Homo sapiens: one gene and its partners. The protein of the gene in region 1 interacts with the protein of each later gene in a pairwise test. Each region holds a gene or a part of one and is shown in the gene's direction. Other genes may lie near its edges.

Region 1 (4,029 bases):
TTATATTTTTTAGTAGAGACAGGGTTTCACCATGTTGGTCAGGCTGGTCTTGAACTCCTGACCTCGTGATCCGCCCGCCTTGGCCTCCTGAAGTGCTGGGATTACAGGTGTGAGCCACCACGCCCGGCCCCTCAAGTGTTTTATCTGAAATTTTTTGTTTATTTTTATTTTTTGAAATGGAGACTTGCTCTTTCGCCCAGGCTGGAGTGCAGTGACACGATCTCGACTCATTGCAAGCTCTGCCTCCCGGTTCAAGCAATTCTCCTGCCTCAGTCTCCCGAGTAGCTAGGATTACAGGTGCCTGCCACCATGCCTGGCTAATATTTATATTTTTAGTAGAGACAAGGTTTCACCATGTTGGCCAGGCTGGTCTTGAACTCCTGACCTCAGGTGATCCTCCCGCCTGGCCTTCCCAAAGTGCTAGGATTACAGGCATGAGCCACTACGCCTGGCTTTTTTTTTTTTTTTTTTTTTTAAGACAGAGTTTTGCTCTTTTTGACCAGGCTGGAGTGCAATGGCACGATCTTGGCTCACTACAACCTCCGCCTCCCAGGTTCAAGCGATTCTCCTGCCTCAGCCTCCCAAGTAGCTGGGATTACAGGCATGCGCCAACACGCCTGGCTAATTTTGTATTTTTAGTGGAGATGAGGTTTCTCCGTGTTGGTCAGGCTGGTCTCCAATTCCCGATCTCAGGTGATTCACCTGCCTTGGCCTCCCATAGTGCTGGGATTACAGGCGTGAGCCACCACACCTGGGCTTTTTTTTTTAGTATGTAGCTCAAACTTTTCATTTCCTTTCCTTATCATGTTCTCTTTTTTTTTTATATCTTCTTTCATGTTTTATGTCATTCTTTTTAAAATTTTTGAAGCATGTAAAGAAACTGTTCTTGGGAGCGGGGAGGGAGAGCATTAGGAGATATACCTAATGTTAAATGACGAGTTAATGGGTGCAGCACACCAACATGGCACATGTATACATATGTAACAAACCTGCACGTTGTGCACATGTACCCTAAAACTTAAAGTATAATAATAATAAAAAAGAAACTGTTCTCCAACATCCCCTCATATTCCGAAACAAGGCTTCTTTTCAAAGTCTATTTTTCACCTCTCTTTTTGATATCACAGTTCATTTTTCATCTGCCTCATCTTCCTCTTTCTTTTTGGGGGCATAAGTTCCATGATGATTTTCTCCATTACTTTTGTGAATGGGCACAGTGCTTTCTTTCCTATGGTTCACCCAGGAAAGGGGGAATGAATTCTCCCGGACTGTCTTCTCTGATCATCTGGCATGATTTGATTCCTCCTCTCAGTCTTTAACACGGCGGGCTGGATACTGCTAATTTGTAGTCTGCTCAGTTGTTCTGTTTCTCGTGGTGATGGGAGGGAGGGCTGGCAGCAGGTAGCAGCACATAGTGTGTGTTGTCTCCAGGCACTTTCTCTCCAACTCCGTTGACTCCTCTGAATTTGGGGAGCAGCCTCACCTGCCTCTGAGGGCTGCCCCTTCATGCATGGGACTTTGTCCTATTTGTGGGATTCCAGAATTTAGGGATGCCCCAGTTTCTGATGCTCAATCGGAAGAGGTGAATAACTGCAACCTTAGTTGTTTTTCTAGAGAGTGAGAGTAGAATTAGGCAATTGTCCTTCAAATACTGTTGGAAGGAAAATTCCAGGCTGTCAAAGGGAATTGTTAAGTGTGCACGTTGCTCAACGGATCCATCCCTCTCCACTTTCTCCACAAAACCAGGTGACCACACCTTCCCCTCCTACCCTACCGAACCACGGGACCTAGGTCCCCAGGAACAGCTGTATGTGTAAGAGAAAGCCACTTGGAGGGGCTACCGTGCTGGGAGTGTGGGTGCGCGTGGGTCCCGGGGAGCTATCTGCAGGCTCGAAGTCCACTTTCACCCAAGCCCCTGGCAACTGGCTGTCCGGGCTGCTTCCTCACACCCCGGTGTCTTCCTATTTTGCCCCGATTGTCAGACTCCACGTAGCTAGATCATAATGGGGCCCTGGGCAGTGGGTCCAAGCTTAGAAGCTCCCGGGCCTGACAGATCTCAGGAAATGACAGCTACACATAGAAGCGAGAGCTACCAGGGGCCAATGTACTTGAGAGGCCAGTGAAACTGAGATCTTCAGTGGGTCTGGGGTCTGGGGGGCAGTAAGAGCAGGGACCAGGGTCGGGATCCCAGGAGTTCGAGGCTGTGGGCAGAAGACAGGGAGAGAACCGGAACTTGGGTAGAGCCATAAGCTGGGAATGAAGGGGGACACCGGCCCAGGGCTGTGAACAGGGGACAGTGGCCACTAACTCAGGTACAGGATTGGCTCTCTGGCTCTGCAACTCCCTGCAAAATGTGGTCACTGCAGTGCCCATCTTAGAGAGCTTCTGAGGATTAAATGAGATCATCTTTGCACAGACAGCACGAAGTCTAGCCTAGCAAATGTGCACTGAACAGTAGCTAGAGTGACGGAAGAAAAAGCTAGGAAGCAGTCTTGTCGGGAGCTGGTGCTTCAGCCTGAGGGCAGATCAGGCTGGGGAAGGCTGAGAGGGGCCACAGTTCCATGCCTGCATGGAGGGAGGAGAAAGGCACAAGAGACTAGAAATTTCCTGTTTGCCTGTGTTTCCAGAAATTCATTGTACAACACACGAACCCCTTCAATACCTGGATAGGTCTCACGGACAGTGATGGCTCTTGGAAATGGGTGGATGGCACAGACTATAGGCACAACTACAAGTAAGTGGCCTCTTCCCTCATCTCCTTGTTAGATTTCTCTGGGGACAGCCCCCTGGCCTTTCACTCCAAGCTACCCTGACTCGTCCCTCAGGGACCAAATTCCCCAATCCTCTCCTCCCCAGACTCCAACCCCTCCAAAGCTGTGCTCTTCTGGGCTGGGGGTGAGGGTTGCTGGGACTGGGCATAGGAAACATCTTTCTCTGCGGTTGGGTTCTCCCCAGACTGGGTAGCAGGGCACACCCCAGCTCCACTCTCGGCCTTCAAGGAAAATGGTCATGAAGAGGAGGAGGATGGGTAAGTCGCTTTCTCACCACCGTGGCAGAGTCCGAGTTTTCTCTTGCCTCCTTAGGAACTGGGCTGTCACTCAGCCAGATAATTGGCACGGGCACGAGCTGGGTGGAAGTGAAGACTGTGTTGAAGTCCAGCCGGATGGCCGCTGGAACGATGACTTCTGCCTGCAGGTGTACCGCTGGGTGTGTGAGAAAAGGCGGAATGCCACCGGCGAGGTGGCCTGACCCCAGCACACCTCTGGCTAACCCATACCCCACACCTGCCCAGCTCTGGCTTCTCTGTTGAGGATTTTGAGGAAAGGAAGAAACACTGAGACAGGGGTATGGGGAAGAGCTGAGCAAAGAGAGAAAGGAGGTAGTTTAAGAGTCCCTGACCCTGGAGGACTGAGATCCCACCTCCTTCTGTAATTCATTGTAATTATTATAATCGTCAGCCTCTTCAATGGCGTAGGAAAGAAGAAACAAATGCTTGAATCTCTGTGTGGCCTGGTTATTGGGAACTGAGAAACAGCATGCAAAGAGGAGGGAGAGGGGAGGGCATGGAAGACGCAAGGCGCGCATCCTAGACAGCTGCTCCTTGGTCCCTAATCCCGAGGGACATTGGTCAGGGAAACGGGAAAGGGGCTTGGAGCAGACAGGCTTAGTGGCTGGCACTGGTGGGAAAGGGGTCGGCCGGGCTGTGGCTGGAGGGTCCGCCTGGCTCCCAGTGAGAGGTGACAGCGTGCTGGCAGTCCTCACAGCCCTCGCTCGCTCTCGGCGCCTCCTCTGCCTGGGCTCCCACTTTGGCGGCACTTGAGGAGCCCTTCATCCCGCCGCTGCACTGTGGGAGCCCCTTTCCGGGCTGGCCAAGGCCGGAGCCGGCTCCCTCAGCTTGCAGGGAGGTGTGGAGGGAGCGGCGCTTGCGGGCCAGCGCGATTTCCGGGTGGGCGTGGACTCGGCGGACCCCGCACTCGGAGTGGCCGGCCTGCCCCACCGGCCGCGGGCAGTGATGGGCTTAGCACCTGA
Region 2 (7,032 bases), on another chromosome or scaffold:
TGTGTACCTCCACACTCATTCCCCTTAGCAGGCCAACTCTAATTTTATTAAAGTTCCTTAAATCAAGCAAAATCAACTTCCTTATAACTTCCTGATTCTGCTGGCCTGAAACAACTCAGAAAATATCTATTCTGGTTTTGTTGTTGCTCCACCCAATGATTCTCATCCTCTAAACACTTAACGCCTATTTAATATTTAATGAATACAACTTGATGGATCTACATTGCATTATCTTTTCTTCTTCTTCTTCTTCTTCTTTTTTTTTTTTTTTTTGCCTAAGGCTCAGAAGGGCAGGGAGCATTTTTGAAGTTTGGAATTATGTACATAGTCAATCATACTCACGGGGTTTTTGATTTGGAGGTATTTAATTTTCTAAATGCATGAATATGGTTCCTTCTTTAACCTCCCACATGTATGTACATAGCTGCCTAACACAAAAGCTCAGGCCTATTTGGGACTCTCAGATGTACATACTCGGAGGGACACACCCAGTGTTGCTACCTACTAGGTCATGGTTAGATCAATCCAATACCAGGACACAGGCTTCTAGCTAGGCCTTTTGGGGATTGTCCCATAATTTGGTCCATAGTTCATGTAGCCCACACCTATACATTGTCACCACCCATCATAGTAATTACGGGAACAGGCTGCCCATCAAATGTAGCCTCCTTGTAATTGCTGGCCAGCAATCTGGGTATCAGCCCCTTGAGAAGAGCTCCTAACCCTTAACCAGCGTAGAACGGGAATTTTCTCACCATAAGCTTCCCTTTTCTAATACTCTTCCCAGATCCGCCCAGGTGATCTTGAATTTCTGGACTGCACTTGCTATTCAGTAATCAAGGAAGCCCAAATATGGTTCCAGTTAGGGGTTTACTTGAATCTTCAGCACCCAGCCCCGACATACACACGTCCTGAGACTGCTCTTTGCAACAATTCAGTCCCTGGTGTCCTGCCTGGGTAAAACCATTTCCTTCAATTTACCTGGGAGATTCACTGATACTAAAGCAGAAAGATGAAAGCACAAACACCTGTGGTGATTGCTGCTTCTCTCTTCCTTTTTAACAAAATGTTTGGGTCAAGGTTTTCTTTTGTGTTGTGGAGATGGCATTTCCCTGGAACTGCAATGGAATCCTCTGCTGTTGGTGCGCTTGGACTTACGTGGCTGTGACAGTTTTTCTATTTGCTGAGCCTGTTTCATGAATTGTTTCTTCAAACCGGGTAGTTAAACTAGAGAGCCCTTTCAGCACAGGTTGAAAGCGTGGCAAGAATCCTGGAGCAGATGTAAGACAGCTGACTAGGAAGACAGAGGGGCAGTGGTGTTATCTTGACGCTGCCATGTAACCACAGGCGAGACACTTGTCTTCTTGCTTTCGGAAGTTGAACTTGGTGGTTCTTTCAGACCCCTTATGGCTCTGAGATTCTAAGATTCACCCAGGCGTGGTAATCCCAGCTACTTGGGAGACTGAGGTGGGAGGATCACTTGAACCTAGGAGTTTGAGACCAGTCTGGGCAACATAGTGAGACCCTGTCTCTAAAAGAAGAATTTTAAAAAGCAGGGTGTGGTAGTGCATGCCTGTAGTCCCAGCTACTTGGGAAGCTGAGGCAGGAGGATTGATTGAGCCCCAGGGCTTTGAGGCTGTAGTCAGCTATGATTGTACCATTGCACTCCAGCCTGAGCAATGAAACAACACCCTGTCTCAAAAAAAACAAAAACAAAACAAACCAACAAACAAAAACACCAAAAAAACGAAAAACAAAAAAATTAAGATCCTACCATTTCTATTTTGAGATATCCCTTGCGCTGATGCTAGCAGCTGGCTTAATCTGTAAAAATTGATAGAAAAGTGAAATAGGGCAACGTGTGGCATTGAAAAGGGCATTTTGCAGAGGATTCTCGTCTCCTGGGTGCCTTGAGGACCCACGGAGCCTCCTCTGCCCCATCCACTCACAGATTCTTTAGGTATGGTGTTCCCCGGACTTACCCTCAGCCATGAGCATTCACTCGGCACTAGGAATAAAAGAAAGAGGTTTGAGTAATTAAACGTAAAGGGTGCCAGCTCAGATGAGGAGGGCAGGCTGAGTCTGTGAAGACATTGACAACAGCAAAGCATTCACCAGGAACAGAATCAGGCTCAGGGAGAAACTGAGCTGGCTCTGGGAAAGAAACTCCACCCTCTTCTTGAGGAGGGAGACCCTGCAGCATGAAGGTGTGGTGTACAGGTGTGGACAGGAGCAAATGAGGAACAGTTTGAGAGGAGGAAGAGGAAGGTGCAACTAGGACAGGAGGGAGGGAGGGAGGGCAAGTGGGATGCTGTTTCCCAGGCCTGTGTGTTGAGGGAGGAGGCAGGCAGAAAGACCTAGAAGCAGGAGAAAAAGCTAAGTGGATAGAGAAAGACAGAAAGGGGGCAAAAGAGCAAGGGAGAAGTGATGAGGATGTTTCCCCTTCCATCCTTCCACTCTTGTTTGGGGACCACCCACCCTCAATGTTTCAAGGCAGTCCTTCGGTCAAAATTCGATTCTTTGTCCCCTGTGAAGAATCTTTTGTCGCATTGGCTACTTCTTGTTTTTTCAGGATGGTTGACACCTCTTTGGTATCATTTTAGTTTCCACTACATGTGCCCACCAGGCTGGAACCTCTTCAATGTTTCTCCTCTTCCAGGTCAGATCAGAGCTGAGAGCAAAACGGGGTTCTTGATCCTTAGACTTCTCATTTCAAAGAATCAAAGACCCTTCCCCAGGACGCTGGAGAAGGGGAGTTGGACAGAGGTTTGCAACCCTGAAACAACTAGTTTGGGGCAAGGCAGTGTGTTCACATTGATCTCAGAGAAAGCTCTGAAGCTGAGACCTGGAGCTTCCCTTTATTGAAAGATAGTCTCCATGTCTGGGTGGGGTGGGGACTCCTGTGCTGAGGGTTAGAAGGTTGCTCGGAGTTTGCAGGGGGATATTGTTCGGGTCTGTTTTGGCCAGGCAGGCTGGCTCTGCTGGGTGGGACTTCTCAGCAAAACGACAGGGAGAAGCAGTGGCCTCGGAAGACCCTGTGTTTTTATAATTGGCACAGTTTTAAGGGGTATATGCTGACTCTCTGATTAACTCAGAGAGGGTAGGAGGAAAAGAGAGAACAGTAGATCTGGTAGAAGTTCTAGAACTTCCACCAAACCCTAAGCCAAGAGACAGGAGAGAAAAAATCATGCCAGGTGGAAGAGCCCTGCCTGGAAGGTGCGAAATGGCTTCAGTTCTGATTCAATTCCATTTCTCCTTTGGGGACGTGCATTTCCTTCTTATCAAGGGGTTGGACTGAATGACCTCAATGCCTCTCAACCTCTAAAGAACGAATTGAAATGAAGCCCTGAGCCCACCTGATGGGTCTGGGGTGTCTCTAGGCGAGGGGCCTCCCCTCCCAGCTTGCCGCCTTCCAGGAGGCTGCAGCTTTGCTGGTTGAAGCATGTTGCCGCCATCTACTGTTGGTCCCACCCAAGCGCCGCTGGGGCCGGGCCACACCTAGGTTTTCTTCCCAAACCCCTAGTTATTATCTTGGCAACCTCTCCCTTGAAGACATTCTGGCTGCCAGAACACTCGTTTGTCAAAAGCAGAAGGCAACTCACGCTTCCGTCCTCGCCCAGGGAACATCGCCTGATCCCTTGACCAGCTGCAGTCTGGGGGAGTAGGCTGGGCCCCAACTTCACAGCCCAGGTCTGGCCTCAGTCTTTGCAGATGTTGCCCAGATCCACCCCTCCCCTGGACACGAAGGAGGACAAGCGGAAATAAGAGAGAGAGGTTATTCTTCTTGGGAGCATTTGCAAAAACAATATTCATGCCACTTGTTTGCCTTTAGCATAATTGTTGGCCCTCAGGCTCTGCCAGAGAAGCATAAAGCCCATTTCCCCGGCCCGAGCCTCTCATTTTACACAGAGGAAGAGACCAACCAACCAGGAACTGTGTGGCCCCCACTCTGTGCCTGGCACAGGCCTTCAGCCCTCATGCTAATCCTGTGAGGTCTACAGGTCACAGTTCAGACATGGTGGAGCCAGGATTGGAGCTGAGAATCCCTGCTCTGTGCTACTTTGAACTCTGTGCCTGTAGGAGCCACTGACCAGAGAGGTTATGTGATTTTTCTAAAGTCAGAAGTTGGTCAGGGGCAGATTTATTATAAGAATCTGGTTCTCCAATAGGTTCTCTCTCTCTCATACAGTGTGCTTGCCCCACTCCCAACCCACACCTTGGCTCCTCACCCCTGACTATGTGAGACTCTGTGCTAGTCTACACAGCACCAGACCAACACGACTTGCTGTATAATAACCCCCATTTATAATAGCCTGCATTTGGAAGATGAAAAAAATAATTGTTTTCCCTGCAGCATGTAGGTCCCTGTTACTTTTGCTGCTTGATTGACGATGTTTCTCCTGGTTGTAAAAACTGCCCTGTATTTTCCAACATCAAGTCCTACCTGAGGTTCCTTCCTTCCACACCAAACATGAGCTATGCAGAGGCCGGAGGAAATGGCCCCTGAGAATCCTTTTTCTCCCCATGTTTCCCACGGAGAAATTAATCCCCTGCTTTCCCACCCCTGCATAAACACAATATTGAGAATGGAAAAGTACACTTGATATAAAACAACAATAACAGTGGCCAGAGAGGCTCATCCAAGGTCTCATCCACTCAGCCTGCCTTTAATCCCAGTCTTTTCCTCCTCCAGACACATCCTCTCCGGCTGCCCCCAGAAGGGAGTGCTTCCTTTTCTGCTTTTGTGTTACATGCGCATCCATTTTGCCAACCAAATGATCCTTCATGGGAAACAAACACATCAAAACCAAACCAACAAAAGCAAAATGCTCCCGACTTGCGCAGAGGACAGAAAGGCTTTCGTGCCACCCTGCGTGGTGTCTTAGGAAGGAGAGGCAGCTGCGGAGTTTCAGGTGTCACGCTGAGGAAGGTGGTGTGGGGTCGTCTGACTCATGGGGGTCAGTTGACCAGAAGCGGCTACGCCTCTCTCTCTCCTCGTGCTTTGGAGGAAGCACCACGTCTTTGGTCAGATGCTGTGAGAAAGCTTTCTCCAAAGTTTACAGTTATCCAGAAAGAGATCAGAATCTCACTGTCAGAAAAACACTGGCCAGCAAAAAGACAGGGAGTGTCTAGCAGTAATCTCAGGACTGTGTTATGACTTGACTGAGATTTTGAGATCTAAGGTGAAGGCCTCTGGTGAATCTTCTGATAACCTGGTAGTTCTGCTGTGAAGACAACCATGCTAGAAAGAGGAAGAATTAGTCTAGTCAGGTAATCTCACCGGCAGAATTAAAAGTCATGGTGGTCGTTGCAAAGAGCACACTCGGACGTATTGTCAGAAAAATCTTTCTAATCGGGGAAGGGATCCTGGTAGGTAGTGAGCTCTCCATGACTGGAGGAGGTTAAGCATGATTCAGATAGTTCTTTGGTCAGATTTGTAGATGACTTTCTTGAATTGAAAAGGAATTTTAAAGACCTCCCTCTTCAGTCCTGAGATTCTATAATTCAAAGAAGTAGAGAGAAAGATTAAATCTGCAGACAAACTAGTGTTTAGAAATTTAAGACATTTTCTTTGCATTCACTTATTTCCTCTTGAACAAAAGGCAACACACACATATATACCCTTGTATATTCAAATGCACTCAGGAAACAGTCACATATTTACATAGGTATTTATATAGAAATATATAACAAAGTTTGCATACAATAAGATGCTCAATACATAGTTGTAGTAAAGTATTAAGCAATTTCTGAAAAATAATAAAGGACTAAAGTCTATGTATGTTAAAAAAAAAAGGAAATATTTTCCCTCTATAATTCTGTGTTTATTATGAAGTCTTCAGTCATTTTGACATTGATTATTTTTCCATGGGGAAGAAAATATGGCCATCCTTAATTCATTTATTTGTTCATTGAACAGATATTTATTTGGTACCTGTCACAGGCAAGACTCTCCCTTCAGGGACTTAAAATCTTAGGGCTGTCATCAGTGGTTTTAATAAAAAGCTATGTGAGGGCAATAGAAGAAGAGAGAAAAGAAAACTGCTCCTAACCTATGGATCTGGGAAGGCTTTTTAGAAGAGGTAGGATTTTAGCTTGGTTGAAAAGAATTTGATAGACTGTCACTGAAAGAAGAATACAAAAGCAGAGCTTTTATTTTTGGAAATCCAAGTCCTGGGATTGCAAGGGCTGGCTTGAGGTGCGTGGAGCCTCTTTCCTGCTGATTGGTGGTGGTTAGAGGTGGGGGTTTGGAGGTTCTTGAGCAGGGGAGTGCCATGGTCAGATAACCCAGTAGCAGGGTAGAAGATATGTTAGAGGGGAGTTGTTCAGAGACAGGGTCATGGGTGAGGCTGATGCCATGGTCAGGCTAGGACCTGAACTGGACAGTAGCAATGGGAATAGAACATAAGGAAGGATGTGAGATAAGTAATGGAGGTAGAAACTCAGGGTAGGACTGTGATGTTTTGGGCAACAAAAGTGGAATGAGGGGAAGGGAAGATAGGACATTTGGCAGTGGTCATTACTGCTCTTTTCTCCCCAGAAAAATCCTGGCCTTTCTTAAGCTGCCAGGGAAATGCCAGCCAGATCCATACCCTGCTTCTCAGAAAGCTCTCTCGTGCCCTTTTGTAGAGAAGGTCTCCATGATGCCTTTCATTCTGGGAGAATCTCACCCACTCTCAAATGAATCATGGAAATTTGAGCCCTGAGGGCCTCCCCCAGTGTTTGCATCGTCTTCAGCTCCTGATTTCTGAGCATGCTCCCCTCCCACCCCTCAGCTAGGGCTAATTCTTCAGTGACTCAAGCCCCAGGATTTTGACCACTTCCTTCACTGGGGAAGTGGGTTTTTGGTTGCTCTATTCTATTGTGTTGCTCCCAGTTATTGTGTTTTAGGTCACTCTTAAAGAATTGCTGCTGCCGCCAGGCCCCATGGCAGTTCAGTGAACACACAGACTTCTGGACAGGAAGAAGTTATCTGACTCCTAGGTTAGCAATCAGGGAACCAAATTATGCACCTCTAAACTTCCCTTCTGG
Region 3 (7,555 bases), on another chromosome or scaffold:
CAGAGAGCTACTTTCTTCACCTTGCTTCCAGAATTGGGATCCCAAGAGCTTGGTGGGGGAGGGGTGTGACAGGGGAAGGGCTCGGTAGTATTTCCTTGGAAGAACAGGTTATGGCCTTTATAAGCTGCTTTCAAAGAAGATGCTGGCAGCTGGTGATTCTTGAGCCCAAGCATGTTCCCAGAGGTGGGAGCATGCTGCAGTGGCCCCATGACCCTCTATTTGTGCCTCCAGACAGCACTCCATCTGGCTGTACATCTGGACCAACCGGGCGCAGTTCGGGCACTGGTGCTGAAGGGGGCCAGCCGGGCACTACAGGACCGGCATGGTGACACAGCCCTTCATGTGGCCTGCCAGCGCCAGCACTTGGCCTGTGCCCGCTGCCTGCTGGAAGGGCGGCCAGAGCCAGGCAGAGGAACATCTCACTCTCTGGACCTCCAGCTGCAAAACTGGCAAGGTGTGGACAGTCTTTAAGACTGCCCTTAGGGCCTGTGGGATGAGGAGGGCATAGGAGATAGGGACCTCACTCTTGGGGAAGGGAGGGTCCCAGCTTGTCCATTGGTGCCCCTCCCACTGTAAGCACATAGATATTCAGTACATCTTTGCCAAATGAATGAATGGATGATTTGATTTCGAATTTAACCAGTACCTACTGCCTGCTGAGAAGAAAACTAAATCTTGCCCTTAAGATACTTAGTTTAATAGAGATTAGATGACCTGATTCATTCATTCAACAGAAATGTACTGAGGGTTTTCTATGTGCCAGACGTTATCCTAGGAGCTACACTTGCATCTGTGTGCAAAATAGAGAAAGATTGAGATGAGCAATAAATGTAAGAAGTGAACTATGTAATATGTTAAAAGGAAGTAAGTGCTGTAGTAAAAAGCAGAGCAGAGTGAGAGGAAGGAATGTGGGGAGTAGGAGAGTTGATATGATTGTTAAATAGGGTGGTCCGGGAAGGCCTCATGGAGCCAGTGACATCTGAATAGCGCCCTGAGGAAGGTGAAGAATGTAAATTTGAATCGAAATCTCTATTACTAAGCAAGGGTCGGGAGTGTCCAGACTAGAAAGGAGAGCAAAAAGGCCAGGGGAGCACAGAAGGAAGCGGCCCCTGAGAAAGGGCTGGGGGCATGAGGATCTTAGGTGGCTTTTCAGAAAAGGTGGCTTTCAGACTGGGCTTGAAGGCAGGTTGTGTGTGTGTGTGTGTGTGTGTGTGTGTGTCTGTATGTGTGTGTGTGTGTGTGTGTGTGTGTGTTGTAGTTTGTGTATAGGAGGAGGGTGTTCTTTGGGGGTGTCACTCAGCAGCCTGACCCCTGAAGCATGAAAGTTTCAATAACATGACTCTGAAAAGGTGGAAACTTTGAGTTCCTTTCCCCTTAGACTTTTGAGGGGGTTTTGGGGTTTGCATTTTAACAGTCTTGTGATTAGAGACATTGAGTGGGCTGTGAGTCCCTTGGGGCTGAGTGGTAGGGAGGTCCCAGAAGAGAGGGAGTTGGTGGATGCAGATCAGCAGCCCTCACCCTCACTCTCACCCCATCCCAGGTCTGGCTTGTCTCCACATTGCCACCCTTCAGAAGAACCAACCACTCATGGAATTGCTGCTTCGGAATGGAGCTGACATTGATGTGCAGGTGAGACAGCCAGCAAAGCACTGCCCGGCCCAGGGCCTGCCCCCACCTGACACATCCCCAAGTCCCCTGCCCAGCAGTCAGAAGTGGTGGCATTCACTTCCTTATCCAGAGCCCAGGCCCAGCACACTGCCTCTGAGGGCCTTGGCTGACATCCTTATTCCTCCCCAGGAGGGCACCAGTGGTAAGACAGCGCTGCACCTGGCTGTGGAAACCCAAGAGCGGGGCCTGGTACAGTTCCTGCTCCAGGCTGGTGCCCAGGTAGATGCCCGCATGCTGAACGGGTGCACACCCCTGCACCTGGCAGCTGGCCGGGGTCTCATGGGCATCTCATCCACTCTGTGCAAGGCGGGTGCTGACTCCCTGCTGCGGAATGTGGAGGATGAGACGCCCCAGGACCTGACTGAGGAAGTAAGTGGCATATGCTTTGCTCTCCAGGGCCTTGCACACCCATAGCAGAGAGAGGTTCTGTCATTAGCTGAAAGGGCCAGGGAGCCAGGAGTCCTGGGGTATAACCAGGACTCTGCCACTGACCAACTGTGGGAACTTGAGCCTGTTTCCTTAGTTGGTCCAAGGAGCCAAATTTGGACTCTTACAGGGACCCTGCAGTTAAAGTGAATCAGTGAAGTTGGCCAGATATGAGACCATGGTGTGGTGAGGCCTATAAGAACCCAGAGAGCCATCCCTGAGGGTCTCTGTACTCAGCTTCAGCAAAGGCTTACAAAGCAGGAGTGTAGGCCCAGTTTTTCCTGGTCTTGGACTTTCTTGAGAGGTGAAACTCAGATTTTCTGTACAGTCTTTCCTATTTTTAAATGTTCAGTGTAAAAAAGAAACCTAAATGTTCTGCGAGTACCCAGCAGCCCCCCCACCCCATCCCCCAACAACAACAAACAACTCCAGGTCCATGGGCTGGATCACCTCTAAGGGTCCCTCCTAACTCGGATATTCTGGCATTATCTTAGAAAAGGAAGGCTTGTCTAAGTCCTCAGGGCTCTGCCAAGCCCAGAGGGGCCACTATTTTGAGGATTCGTGTGAAGATTTGTTCCCTGATGGTCTTCAACTGTCATTTGGTGGGGAGGGAGTGGCCCAACAGGTTTCCCTGGGTCCCCTTTCCCAAGTCACCTTTTCCCATGTCCTCTGATCTTGCTTCTCTCCATTCTCCTTCTCAGTCCCTTGTCCTTTTGCCCTTTGATGACCTGAAGATCTCAGGGAAACTGCTGCTGTGTACCGACTGAAGCCAGGCAGGGTCTGGGATCCTCAGGGCTCCACCTCTCCATCTGGAAGCCGGAGCCATAACTGCTGCAGTTTGGGCCCAGGCTATGTGCTCTTCTGGTGCCCTAGGGACTGCTGTGGCCAGAGCCTGGGGCCAGCCAGTACAGTCCTGAGCCGAGGAGGAGGGACTGCAAGTGGAAGAGAGCCAGTCTGGAAGGAAGAGCTTTCCAGGTGGACAGGGCTTCTTGGAAGACCCCCAAAGCCCCAGGTATCCTGGGTGAAGCCTGTTTGCCTCTCTTGAAAATGGCAGGTGCTCTTGTTTTACCCATGTTGGGTCAGCCTGAAACTGCCAACCAGTAGGAAGCATGGACTCTCCTGAGTGAGAAGAGACTGAAATAGGAGCAAGCAGAACCCTGAGAGGTGTCCCATCTTATTGCTGTTGAGGACCCTGAAACACCGTTGTTTAAAGACTTCACACAGAAGGCTCTGAACTGAGCCACTGGGGAAGGGAAGTTTCAGTAACATGACACTAAAATGGCAGAGACGTTAAAAAAAGTTTTTCCCTTCTAGAGCTGTTTTGCGCGCATGCATGTCTGTGTGCATTGGGGCTTTTTAGACAGGCCTGCCCTGTGACTTTGTGGTAGAGGCAGAGAGAAGGAAATTGTCCCCTGAGCACGGTAGGGCCTTGCTGGGTGGGGTCAGAGGCCAGTAGTTCCAGGCCTTTCTCTGTGTCCAGCACAGACCCTTGTCCTTGCTGTGGAAATGATGAGGGATGGAGGGACAAGAGGAAGAATGAGAGGACACACGCCCTGGAGCCCTCACCACTGCCCTGGGGGTTGCCATCTGGAGGAGCCTGGGGATAAGGGTAACCCAGGGAGGCTGGGCACGAGGGAGCTGACTCCACGTTTTTCCCCCCGTTCCTCACCTTCGAGGGCCCTGCTAGGTCACCCCTATGCTGGCATGAAGAGCATGGGGCAATAAACCAGCACAGTCTCTGACCACTTGGAGCGTCTCATCCAGTGAGAGAGACAGCCGTTAAAAGCATAAACATCCAAATAAAGATGCCTTTCCAAGTTGCAGTGGGTGCTATGAAGGGAAAAGAATAGTGGGAAGGAAAAGGATGGAGTCGGTAGAGGGTCATACTTTGGGTGGTCCGGGAACCCTCGCCTGAGGAGTATCATCTCAACTGGGATGTAAGGATGAGTAAAGGGATGGGGGCAGAGCATTAGGGGGAAAGCCTGTGAATTAGAGGAACTGAGAGCAAGCCAGTGGGGCTTCACAGCGGGCGAGTGAGTGGGCGAGGAACGCGGGCGAGGCCATGTAGAGCCTCGAAGATCATGGGAAGTGGGACAGAATTACTACCCAGCCAACAAAGCAAGGAGACACCTTCATCCTGTCAGAAAACGGGGAAACTAACACAGAGGAGCGGCTTGGGATGCAGAGCCTCAATGTCCTGTCCACAAGATGGCAATGGTCACCATGACCTCTGGGACGCTTATGAAGGGCGATGACGAAGCACAGGGGACACGCCGGGCGGGCGCCTCTTCAGGGCTGGGGCTCCCCGCGCCCAGGGGCAGCCCAGGTCCCCGGAACCCAAGCCGCGTCTGCCTCCGGGCCGCGCGGGGGCGCTGTGGTCCGGCGGCGGCCCGGGGCGCTGCGTGGTCGCGGCAGGGGCGGAGGGGGCCGCGGGGAGGGAGGCGGGAAGAGCGCGGCACTTCCGCTGGCCGCTGGCTCGCTGGCCGCTCCTGGAGGCGGCGGCGGGAGCGCAGGGGGCGCGCGGCCCGGGGACTCGCATTCCCCGGTTCCCCCTCCACCCCACGCGGCCTGGACCATGGACGCCAGGTGGGGGCTAGGGCAGCAGCGAGCTCACGTGACCGAGCCCCCGGGCCACGTGACTGCCGCGCCTCAGCACGGGGGCCGGGTGGGGTCCCGGCTGCTCGGCCGTCGGCCAGCATATCGCTGCCCGGAGCCAGCGGGGATGGGAGCTGCGGCTTGGTTTTGTGCTCCTTGGGGAGCTTCGGGCGGAGGGGCTGGGGACCCTGACGTCCCGGATCGTGGAGGGGAGTGTGGGGGAAGGGGCGCTTCCTCTGACCTGAGCAGCCGGCTAGCGTTGGAGGGAACAGAGGAGACCTGTGTGGCCAGAGGGGCGGATCCGCCCCCGGGGAGGGAGGAAGCTCTGCCTGGCCAGCGCCGGCGCACCCCCTCCCCGAGAGAGAGAGAGAGAGAGAGGCTCTTTGTCCGGGCCGGAGCTGCAGCGGAGGGGGCGGGGAGGAGACTCCGGGCACTACTCCAGTGTGGTCCCCTCTGGAGGGCGGAGGGGATGAGGAGCTGCGCCCTAATCCTTATGTCCGCTTTCCTTACAGATGGTGGGCAGTGGTGGTGCTGGCTGCGTTCCCCTCCCTAGGGGCAGGTGGGGAGACTCCCGAAGCCCCTCCGGAGTCATGGACCCAGCTATGGTTCTTCCGATTTGTGGTGAATGCTGCTGGCTATGCCAGCTTTATGGTACCTGGCTACCTCCTGGTGCAGTACTTCAGGCGGAAGAACTACCTGGAGACCGGTGTGTGAAGAAAGGGCGGGGAAGTGAGCTAGGTCGGGAAAGAGGGTATTTGGCCAGCAGTCCAAACGGGATATGACTTGGAGAGGGCGGGAGGTCGGTAGGCCGGACAGCAGGGCAGGCTGGCTGCTCTGGGGAAGATGAAGTGCTATGGAGAAGATTTGGGGCTTGACTTTGTGTGCTTTCTTCAGGTAGGGGCCTCTGCTTTCCCCTGGTGAAAGCTTGTGTGTTTGGCAATGAGCCCAAGGCCTCTGATGAGGTTCCCCTGGCGCCCCGAACAGAGGCGGCAGAGACCACCCCGATGTGGCAGGCCCTGAAGCTGCTCTTCTGTGCCACAGGGCTCCAGGTGGGTAGGTGGGCTCAGCCTCTCTTCCTGGGTTGGATGCCGGTGGGCAGGGATTCTGTGAAGGTTTCCATTTTACCAGTCCCAGAGCTTTGCTGGCTGGTGTGTTTCGTGTCCTCCTCCCAGGGGCACACTGCACCTCCATCTTTGAGGTGTTTGGGGGAAATGCCCTTTTGTTTCTTCCTTTTCTCCTCTCCAGCACTGGTACTGAAAGTTCATGCTGTTATTTCAAGATGTCTAGTGCAGAAGAGAGGACTCCTCTTGCCCTATTCTCTGTGATTTCTACTGTGCCGTTATTATACTTCCTTCCTGCACTGGTGTCTCACATACTGTAAACCCACTGATAAAATTGTGGGGGAGCCATTCAGCCTTCCCCCAGTACTGCATGTGAGAGAGTGCTAACATGCTGACCCCATGGCATTTTGCAGTGGGTACTAGTTCCACCTTGAATATCATGTTGAACTACAGATACCCAATTCTGAGAGTTCTTGCCTCCCTGAATAGGTTTTTCACACACAGTTGATTCCCTACAAGGTGAATCCAGACTTAGGAGGGGAGAAGAAACTTCTACAGAGGAACCAAAAAGTGTATATTTTCCTTTGAATCACTTAGGCATAATCCTGAAGAGAGAGAGGTCAATTTTTGTCTACCTTTTCATTATCTTGCTTATTGTCTCCTTTGTCTCTACCTTCCCCAACAGGTGTCTTATCTGACTTGGGGTGTGCTGCAGGAAAGAGTGATGACCCGCAGCTATGGGGCCACAGCCACATCACCGGGTGAGCGCTTTACGGACTCGCAGTTCCTGGTGCTAATGAACCGAGTGCTGGCACTGATTGTGGCTGGCCTCTCCTGTGTTCTCTGCAAGCAGCCCCGGCATGGGGCACCCATGTACCGGTACTCCTTTGCCAGCCTGTCCAATGTGCTTAGCAGCTGGTGCCAATACGAAGCTCTTAAGTTCGTCAGCTTCCCCACCCAGGTGCTGGCCAAGGCCTCTAAGGTGATCCCTGTCATGCTGATGGGAAAGCTTGTGTCTCGGCGCAGCTACGAACACTGGGAGTACCTGACAGCCACCCTCATCTCCATTGGGGTCAGCATGTTTCTGCTATCCAGCGGACCAGAGCCCCGCAGCTCCCCAGCCACCACACTCTCAGGCCTCATCTTACTGGCAGGTTATATTGCTTTTGACAGCTTCACCTCAAACTGGCAGGATGCCCTGTTTGCCTATAAGATGTCATCGGTGCAGATGATGTTTGGGGTCAATTTCTTCTCCTGCCTCTTCACAGTGGGCTCACTGCTAGAACAGGGGGCCCTACTGGAGGGAACCCGCTTCATGGGGCGACACAGTGAGTTTGCTGCCCATGCCCTGCTACTCTCCATCTGCTCCGCATGTGGCCAGCTCTTCATCTTTTACACCATTGGGCAGTTTGGGGCTGCCGTCTTCACCATCATCATGACCCTCCGCCAGGCCTTTGCCATCCTTCTTTCCTGCCTTCTCTATGGCCACACTGTCACTGTGGTGGGAGGGCTGGGGGTGGCTGTGGTCTTTGCTGCCCTCCTGCTCAGAGTCTACGCGCGGGGCCGTCTAAAGCAACGGGGAAAGAAGGCTGTGCCTGTTGAGTCTCCTGTGCAGAAGGTTTGAGGGTGGAAAGGGCCTGAGGGGTGAAGTGAAATAGGACCCTCCCACCATCCCCTTCTGCTGTAACCTCTGAGGGAGCTGGCTGAAAGGGCAAAATGCAGGTGTTTTCTCAGTATCACAGACCAGCTCTGCAGCAGGGGATTGGGGAGCCCAGGAGGCAGCCTTCCCTTTTGCCTTAAGTCAC
Region 4 (7,032 bases), on another chromosome or scaffold:
TTGAGGTAATTATTCTTGGCTACCAAGATCAATAACAAGGATGACACCAGTCCAAGGTTGACAGGCAGTTGCTAGGCAGATTTTCTCACGAGAGAAGTTTTTTGGTGCAAGGTTGCAGTGGCCTTTGTGTAAGGTTGTAGTTTTTGTAAAAAGGAAAAAAAAAAACCCTTAATCCTTGTTATCAGACATACAAGGGTGAGACCCTTCTCTTCAGGGTTGCATTTTTGTTAACACTAGTGACTCCATTTTGATTTTGACAACTTGCACATATCTTAGTTGTTGGGTTTTTTTTGTTTGTTTTTTGTTTTGTTTTTTTTTTTTTTTTTGACAATGGTGACTTGCTCTGTCACCCAGGCTGGGGTGCAGTGGCCCGATCATGGCTCACTGCAGCCTCAAGCAGTCCTCCCCCTTCAGCCTCCAAACTGTTTGGATTATAGGCAAGAGCTACTTACTACACCTGGCCATGGATCTTCTTGTGTCAACTTTGAGACCAAATTTACTGCAGTGCTTAAAATGTTTTAAGAAGTTATACACATGTGCTGGATGTGGTAGCTCACGCCTGTAATCCTGTAGCAGGACAAGCCGCAGACAAATCCCCTCAGACACCGAGTTAAAGAAGGAAGGGCTTTATTTGGCTGGGAGCTTTGGCAAGACTCACGTCTCCAAAAACTGAGCTCCCCGAGTGAGCAATTCCTGACCTTTTTAAGGGCTTACAACTAAGGGAGTCTGCGTGAGAGGGTCGTGATCAATTGGGCAAGCAGGGGGTACGTGACTGGGGGTTGCATGCACCGGTAATTAGAACAGAACAGAACAGGACGGGATTTTCACAGTGCTTTTCTATACAATGTCTGGAATCTATAGATAACATAACTGGTTAGGTCAGGGCTCGATCTTTAACCAGGACCAGGGTGCGGCAGCGCTGGGCTGTCCACCTCTGCCTTTTAGTTTTTACTTCTTCTTTCTTTGGAGGCAGAAATTGGGCATAAGACAATATGAGGGGTGGTCTCCTCCCTTAATCCCAGCACTTTGGGAGGCCAAGGAAGGCGGATTACGAAGTCAGGAGTTTGAGACTAGCCTGACCAAAATGGTGAAACCCCGTCTCTGCTAAAAATACAAAAATTAGTCGGACATAGTGGCGTGTGCCTGTAACCCCAGCTACTCAGGAGGCTGAGGCAGGAGAATCGCTTGAACCTGGGAGGCAGAGGTTGCAGTGAGCTGAGATGGAGCCACTGCACTGCAGCTTGGGTGACAGAGCAAGACCCTGTCTCAAAAAAAAAAGTTATACACATGTAATTATTGCATGTTCCTTCATTATTAGTTTTAACATAGACTTGTTAATCTCAATTAGCTTAATTAGCATTTGAGTTTATTGCTAAAACTTCTTTATGAGTTTTAATAATGAGGCTTGGCCGAGTGTGGTGGGTCATACCTGTAATCCCAGCATTTGGGAGGCCAAGGCGGGTAGATCACTTGAGGTCAGGAGTTCAAGACCAGCCTGGCCAACATGGTTAAACCCCATCTCTACTAAAAATACAAAAAAATTAGCTGGGCATGGTGGCACATGCCTATAATCCCAGCTGCTCAGGAGGCTGAGGTGGAAGAATCGCTTGAACCCAGGGGGCAGAGGTTGCAGTGAGCCGAGATCGTGCCATTGCACTCTAGCCTGGGCAACAGAGCAAGATCGTCTAACAACAACAAAAAAAAAACCAAGGCTGAATTTCTTGAGTGATTGAGCAGTGGCTATCTATTGGACAGTCCAGCTGAACAGTATTTTCCTCAGGCTGGGTGCAGTAACTCACACCTATAATTCCGGCACATTGGGTGGCTGAGGTGGGCAGATCACTTGAGGCCAGGAGTGAGACCAGCCTGGGTAACGTGCCTAGACTATATCTCTACAAAAAATTTTTTAAATTAAGTGGCCCAGTGGCCAGCTGTAGTCCCAACTCCTTGGGAGGCTGAGGCAGGGGGGTCACTTGAGCTAGGAGCTTAAGGCTGTGGGGAGCCATGATTGCATCACCACGCTCCAGCCTGGGTGACAGAGTGACCTCGTCTCAAGGCTGCAGGGAGCCATGATTGCATCACTGCACTCCAGCCTGGGTGACAGAGAGAGGCCTCGTCTCAAGGCTGCGGGGAGCTGTGATTGCATCACTGCACTCTAGCCTGGGTGACAGAGTGACCTCGTCTCAAGGCTAGAGGGAGCCATGATTGCATCACTGCACTCCAGCCTGGGTGACAGAGAGAGACCTCGTCTCAAGGCTGCAGGGAGTCATGATTGCATCGCTGCACTCTAGCCTGGGTGACAGAGACCTTGTCTCAAGGCTGCGGGGAGTCATGATTGCATTGCTGCACTCTAGCCTGGGTGACAGAGAGACCTTGTCTCAAGGCTGTGGGGAGTCGTGATTGCATCACTGCACTCTAGCCTGGGTGACAGAGAGACCTCGTCTCAAGGTATGTTTCATGTATCTTCTCTTTTTTCATTGATAAAGGCCCAAACTTCCCAGAGAGAAAAACATACAGCCTTAAGGAATTTGGCTAGAAGTCTATTCAGGGCATATGATACGATAGAACAGGGATTCTGTAGAACCTGGAAGAAAGTAGTCACTCTAGGAGTAGGTTAGCTTGAGAGAAGTAGCAAGAATGTACTTAAAGCAGCAGATAATGAGATAGAATTGGGGTAAATTGCGGTAGGAATATGTTAGAAGCAAGGGTGGAACTGTCGTCACTGTTACCTCGATGGCGAAGCCAGAATGTGAGGCTCTTGCTCTTAGAACTCACGTGAGTACCATAGCCTCGCGTTGTCTTGCAGGACACAGATTATCCTTATTTGGGTACCACCATGGACACCTATAAGGAACTGATTGAGAGGATTCCTGAGTTGAACAAAGTGGCACGAGCAGCTGCAGAGGTCGCTGGTCAGTTCGTGATTAAACTAACCCATGATGTTGAATTGAACCTGGACTATGAGAGGTACAACAGCCAACTGCTTTCATTTGTGAGGGATCTGAACCAATACAGAGCAGACATAAAGGTGAGCACTGATTCCAATTACGTTTTTATTTTGCTGAATGTCAAGTATTTTGAAATGTGATGTGTTCCTGTGTGTTCCTGTTGGAAGGGTGATTGTAGCCATAGTACATTTTAAAGTGAACTGAGGTATAATTGTATGTAGAATTGGTAACTTGTTTGAGAGAAGTCGGGAGGCTGTGGATTAGAGACCTAGGACAGAGCTCAGCAGGTGTTTCAGAATCCAGAGCAGTGTCAGGTTTTCTGTCACTCATGTCTCCCAGGCAGCCCGTCAGTAGGACACGGAATATGAAGATCTCAGCAAGGAGTTGGGCTGTGTGCCTCTCGGGCGTGACCCGGATGGAAAGACAGCACAGCTAGCAGGATTCCATCTCGTAGTGATCTGCGCATCTAAAAGTCAAATATTCTATTAAACGAAACTGATAAGCAGGGTGAGGTGGTGCATACCCGTAGCCCCAGCTACTTCTGCTGAGGCAGGAGGATTGCTGGAGTCCAGCCCAGGCAACATAGCAAAATCCCATCTCTAAATAAATTAATAAAACTAATATTAAAGTAGCTTCCAGATTGTTTTATGGTACTAGGAGTTGATTTTTAACAGATCTCTTAATTGAAGTAAATCACTGACAACCGAATCTTTTTATATCTTTTTTATTTTTATTTTTATTTTATTTTTTTTGAGAGATGAAGTCTCGCTCTTGTCCCCCAGGCTGGAATGCAATGACATGATCTCGGCTCACTGCAACCTCCACCTCCCGGCTTTAAGCGATTCTCCTGCCTCGGCTCCCCAGGTAGCTGGGATTACAGGCGTGTGCCACCATGCCCAGATAGTTTTTGTGTTTTTAGTAGAAGCCGGGGTTTTACCATGTTGGCCAGGCTGAAGTGCAGTGGCGAGATCTCGGCTCACTGTAAGATGCGCCTCCCGGGTTCACGCCATTCTCCTGCCTAAGCCTCCCGAGTAGCTGGGACTACAGGTGCCGGCCACCACGCCCGGCTAATTTTTTGTATTTTTAGTAGAGCCGGGGTTTTACCATGTTGGCCAGGCTGGTCTTGAACTCCTGACCTCAGGTGATCCACCCACCTCGGCCTCCCAAAGTGCTGGGATCACAGGCATGAGCCACCACGCCCGGCATCTTATGTCTTTCTTGAAACTAATTGTAACTGTTGAAAATGGAACTTACCAGGTGGAAATAACTAAATCCTGAAGTACCTTGAACCAAAATGTTTTCCCCTATAGGGACATTTTCCCCCAAAAGGAGAATTGAACTGGAAACAATATAGTACATAGGATTATATAATTATGTTCAATTTCTTAATGAGAATGGTTTTCTTACATGCTGGGCTCAAATATGAGTGTATATCACAGTCCATAGAGCTTGGAACCCCTGTGCAAGGTGCTTTCGGAGTCTTGAGCTTATCTGCGAGTTCCTTTTATCAGAATCTTACTTAACGCACGTTAAATTAGAAAGGCATACAAAAGAATGTCCTTAGAAATAAAACTTCTCATAGCGAATAATGTCTGTTTCAGGAAATGGGCCTGAGTTTACAGTGGCTGTATTCTGCTCGTGGAGACTTCTTCCGTGCTACTTCCAGACTAACAACAGATTTCGGGAATGCTGAGAAAACAGACAGATTTGTCATGAAGAAACTCAATGATCGTGTCATGAGAGTAAGTGAACTTTTGGGAAAGGAGGAACTAAAGTATGTGTAAAATAACCGATAAATCTTACACTTCTGCAAAGTGGACAAACTCTAGGAGTCTAGAATTCCTTTAAGAAGGGAGCATTAATGGTTTAGCTGTCATTTTCTGTTTCTGCTGTCTAATTCAGAACTTAGTCAAACCTAGTCTTTTTGGAAGAGACTTGCTGTAAAACTTCCATGTATGCTCCAATGGGGAAAAGAATCTGAACACATTTAAAGTTTTCCTTTGTAAAATGAATCAGTTTCCTTTAAAAAAATTTTTTTTTTTTTTGAGACAGAGTTTCACTGTTGTTGCCCAAGCTGGAGTGCAATGGCACGGTCTCGGCTCACTGCACCCTCCACCTCCCAGGTTCAAGTGATTCTCCTGCCTTAGCCTCCCGAGTTGCTGTGATTACAGGTGCCCAACACCACGCCCGGCTCATTTTTTGTATTTTTAGTAGAAACGGAGTTTCACCATGTTAGCCAGGCCGGTCTCGAACTCCCAACCTCAAGTGATCCACCTGCCTTGGCCTCCCAAAGTGCTGGTATTACAAGCGTGAGCCGCTGTGCCTAGCCTCCTTTAGAATTTTAACCTTAGAAGATTAGCATTAGCCTGGTTCTCAGCATTCTTTTTTCCTTACTCTGCTATAGAAAGTCTGATCAGCTGGCTGGGTACAGTGGCTCATGCCTGTAATTCCAGTACTTTGGGAGGCCGAGGCAAGCGGATCACCTGAGGTCAGGAGTTCAAGACCAGCCTGACCAACATGGAGAAACCCCATCTCTACTAAAAATACAAAAATTAGCTGGGCGTGGTGGTGCATGCCTGTAATTCCAGCTGCTCAGGAGGCTGAGGCAGGAGAATTACTTGAACCCGGGAGGTGGAGGTTGCAGTGAGCTGAGATCGCGCCATTGTACTCCAGCCTGGGCAACAAGAGCGAAACTCTGTCTCAACAACAACAAAAAGCCGGGCACGGTGGCTCACACCTGTAATCCCAGCATGAATTGCTTGAACTCGGGAGGTGGAGGGTACCAGTGAGCCGAGATAGCGCTGTTGCACTCCAGTCTGGGCAACAAGAGCGAAACTCTGTGTCAAAAAAAAAAAAAAAAAAAAAAAGTCTGATCGGCATTCTTAAATTTGGGACATTTTACATTTGAAGTGAACTGTTGTTTTACTACAAAAGTCACAGGGCTGTGTAAATTGCCTTGTGTGTTGTTTTCGTAGGTGGAGTATCACTTCCTCTCTCCCTACGTATCTCCAAAAGAGTCTCCTTTCCGACATGTCTTCTGGGGCTCCGGCTCTCACACGCTGCCAGCTTTACTGGAGAACTTGAAACTGCGTAAACAAAATAACGGTGCTTTTAATGAAACGCTGTTCAGAAACCAGTTGGCTCTAGCTACTTGGACTATTCAGGGAGCTGCAAATGCCCTCTCTGGTGACGTTTGGGACATTGACAATGAGTTTTAAATGTGATACCCATAGCTTCCATGAGAACAGCAGGGTAGTCTGGTTTCTAGACTTGTGCTGATCGTGCTAAATTTTCAGTAGGGCTACAAAACCTGATGTTAAAATTCCATCCCATCATCTTGGTACTACTAGATGTCTTTAGGCAGCAGCTTTTAATACAGGGTAGATAACCTGTACTTCAAGTTAAAGTGAATAACCACTTAAAAAATGTCCATGATGGAATATTCCCCTATCTCTAGAATTTTAAGTGCTTTGTAATGGGAACTGCCTCTTTCCTGTTGTTGTTAATGAAAATGTCAGAAACCAGTTATGTGAATGATCTCTCTGAATCCTAAGGGCTGGTCTCTGCTGAAGGTTGTAAGTGGTCGCTTACTTTGAGTGATCCTCCAACTTCATTTGATGCTAAATAGGAGATACCAGGTTGAAAGACCTTCTCCAAATGAGATCTAAGCCTTTCCATAAGGAATGTAGCTGGTTTCCTCATTCCTGAAAGAAACAGTTAACTTTCAGAAGAGATGGGCTTGTTTTCTTGCCAATGAGGTCTGAAATGGAGGTCCTTCTGCTGGATAAAATGAGGTTCAACTGTTGATTGCAGGAATAAGGCCTTAATATGTTAACCTCAGTGTCATTTATGAAAAGAGGGGACCAGAAGCCAAAGACTTAGTATATTTTCTTTTCCTCTGTCCCTTCCCCCATAAGCCTCCATTTAGTTCTTTGTTATTTTTGTTTCTTCCAAAGCACATTGAAAGAGAACCAGTTTCAGGTGTTTAGTTGCAGACTCAGTTTGTCAGACTTTAAAGAATAATATGCTGCCAAATTTTGGCCAAAGTGTTAATCTTAGGGGAGAGCTTTCTGTCCTTTTGGCA

Evidence for each region.
Region 2: the proteins of ASGR2 (region 1) and EMP1 interact in binary tests that used the Homo sapiens proteins (3 or more experiments, as listed by UniProt).
Region 3: the proteins of ASGR2 (region 1) and SLC35B2 interact in binary tests that used the Homo sapiens proteins (3 or more experiments, as listed by UniProt).
Region 4: the proteins of ASGR2 (region 1) and TFRC interact in binary tests that used the Homo sapiens proteins (3 or more experiments, as listed by UniProt).

Annotation. Positions count from the first base shown.
Region 1 is NC_000017.11:7,100,795-7,104,823, reverse strand, and holds the end of ASGR2 (asialoglycoprotein receptor 2), read left to right. Parts: intron 1-2,627; coding exon 2,628-2,734; intron 2,735-3,083; coding exon 3,084-3,249; 3' UTR 3,250-3,498; downstream 3,499-4,029. UniProt on the Homo sapiens protein: Mediates the endocytosis of plasma glycoproteins to which the terminal sialic acid residue on their complex carbohydrate moieties has been removed. The receptor recognizes terminal galactose and N-acetylgalactosamine units.
Region 2 is NC_000012.12:13,199,709-13,206,740, forward strand, and holds part of EMP1 (epithelial membrane protein 1), read left to right. Parts: intron 1-7,032.
Region 3 is NC_000006.12:44,254,525-44,262,079, reverse strand, and holds the start of SLC35B2 (adenosine 3'-phospho 5'-phosphosulfate transporter 1), read left to right. Parts: upstream 1-4,551; 5' UTR 4,552-4,669; coding exon 4,670-4,680; intron 4,681-4,791; exon of another isoform or gene 4,792-4,898; intron 4,899-5,201; coding exon 5,202-5,395; intron 5,396-5,583; coding exon 5,584-5,738; exon of another isoform or gene 5,739-5,742; intron 5,743-6,435; coding exon 6,436-7,374; 3' UTR 7,375-7,555. Other genes in the region: NFKBIE (NF-kappa-B inhibitor epsilon), read left to right, coding at 232-454, 1,541-1,629, 1,798-2,037, 2,796-2,861. UniProt on the Homo sapiens protein: Probably functions as a 3'-phosphoadenylyl sulfate:adenosine 3',5'-bisphosphate antiporter at the Golgi membranes.
Region 4 is NC_000003.12:196,051,076-196,058,107, reverse strand, and holds part of TFRC (transferrin receptor protein 1), read left to right. Parts: intron 1-2,806; coding exon 2,807-3,028; intron 3,029-4,549; coding exon 4,550-4,690; intron 4,691-5,923; coding exon 5,924-6,166; 3' UTR 6,167-7,032. UniProt on the Homo sapiens protein: Cellular uptake of iron occurs via receptor-mediated endocytosis of ligand-occupied transferrin receptor into specialized endosomes. Endosomal acidification leads to iron release.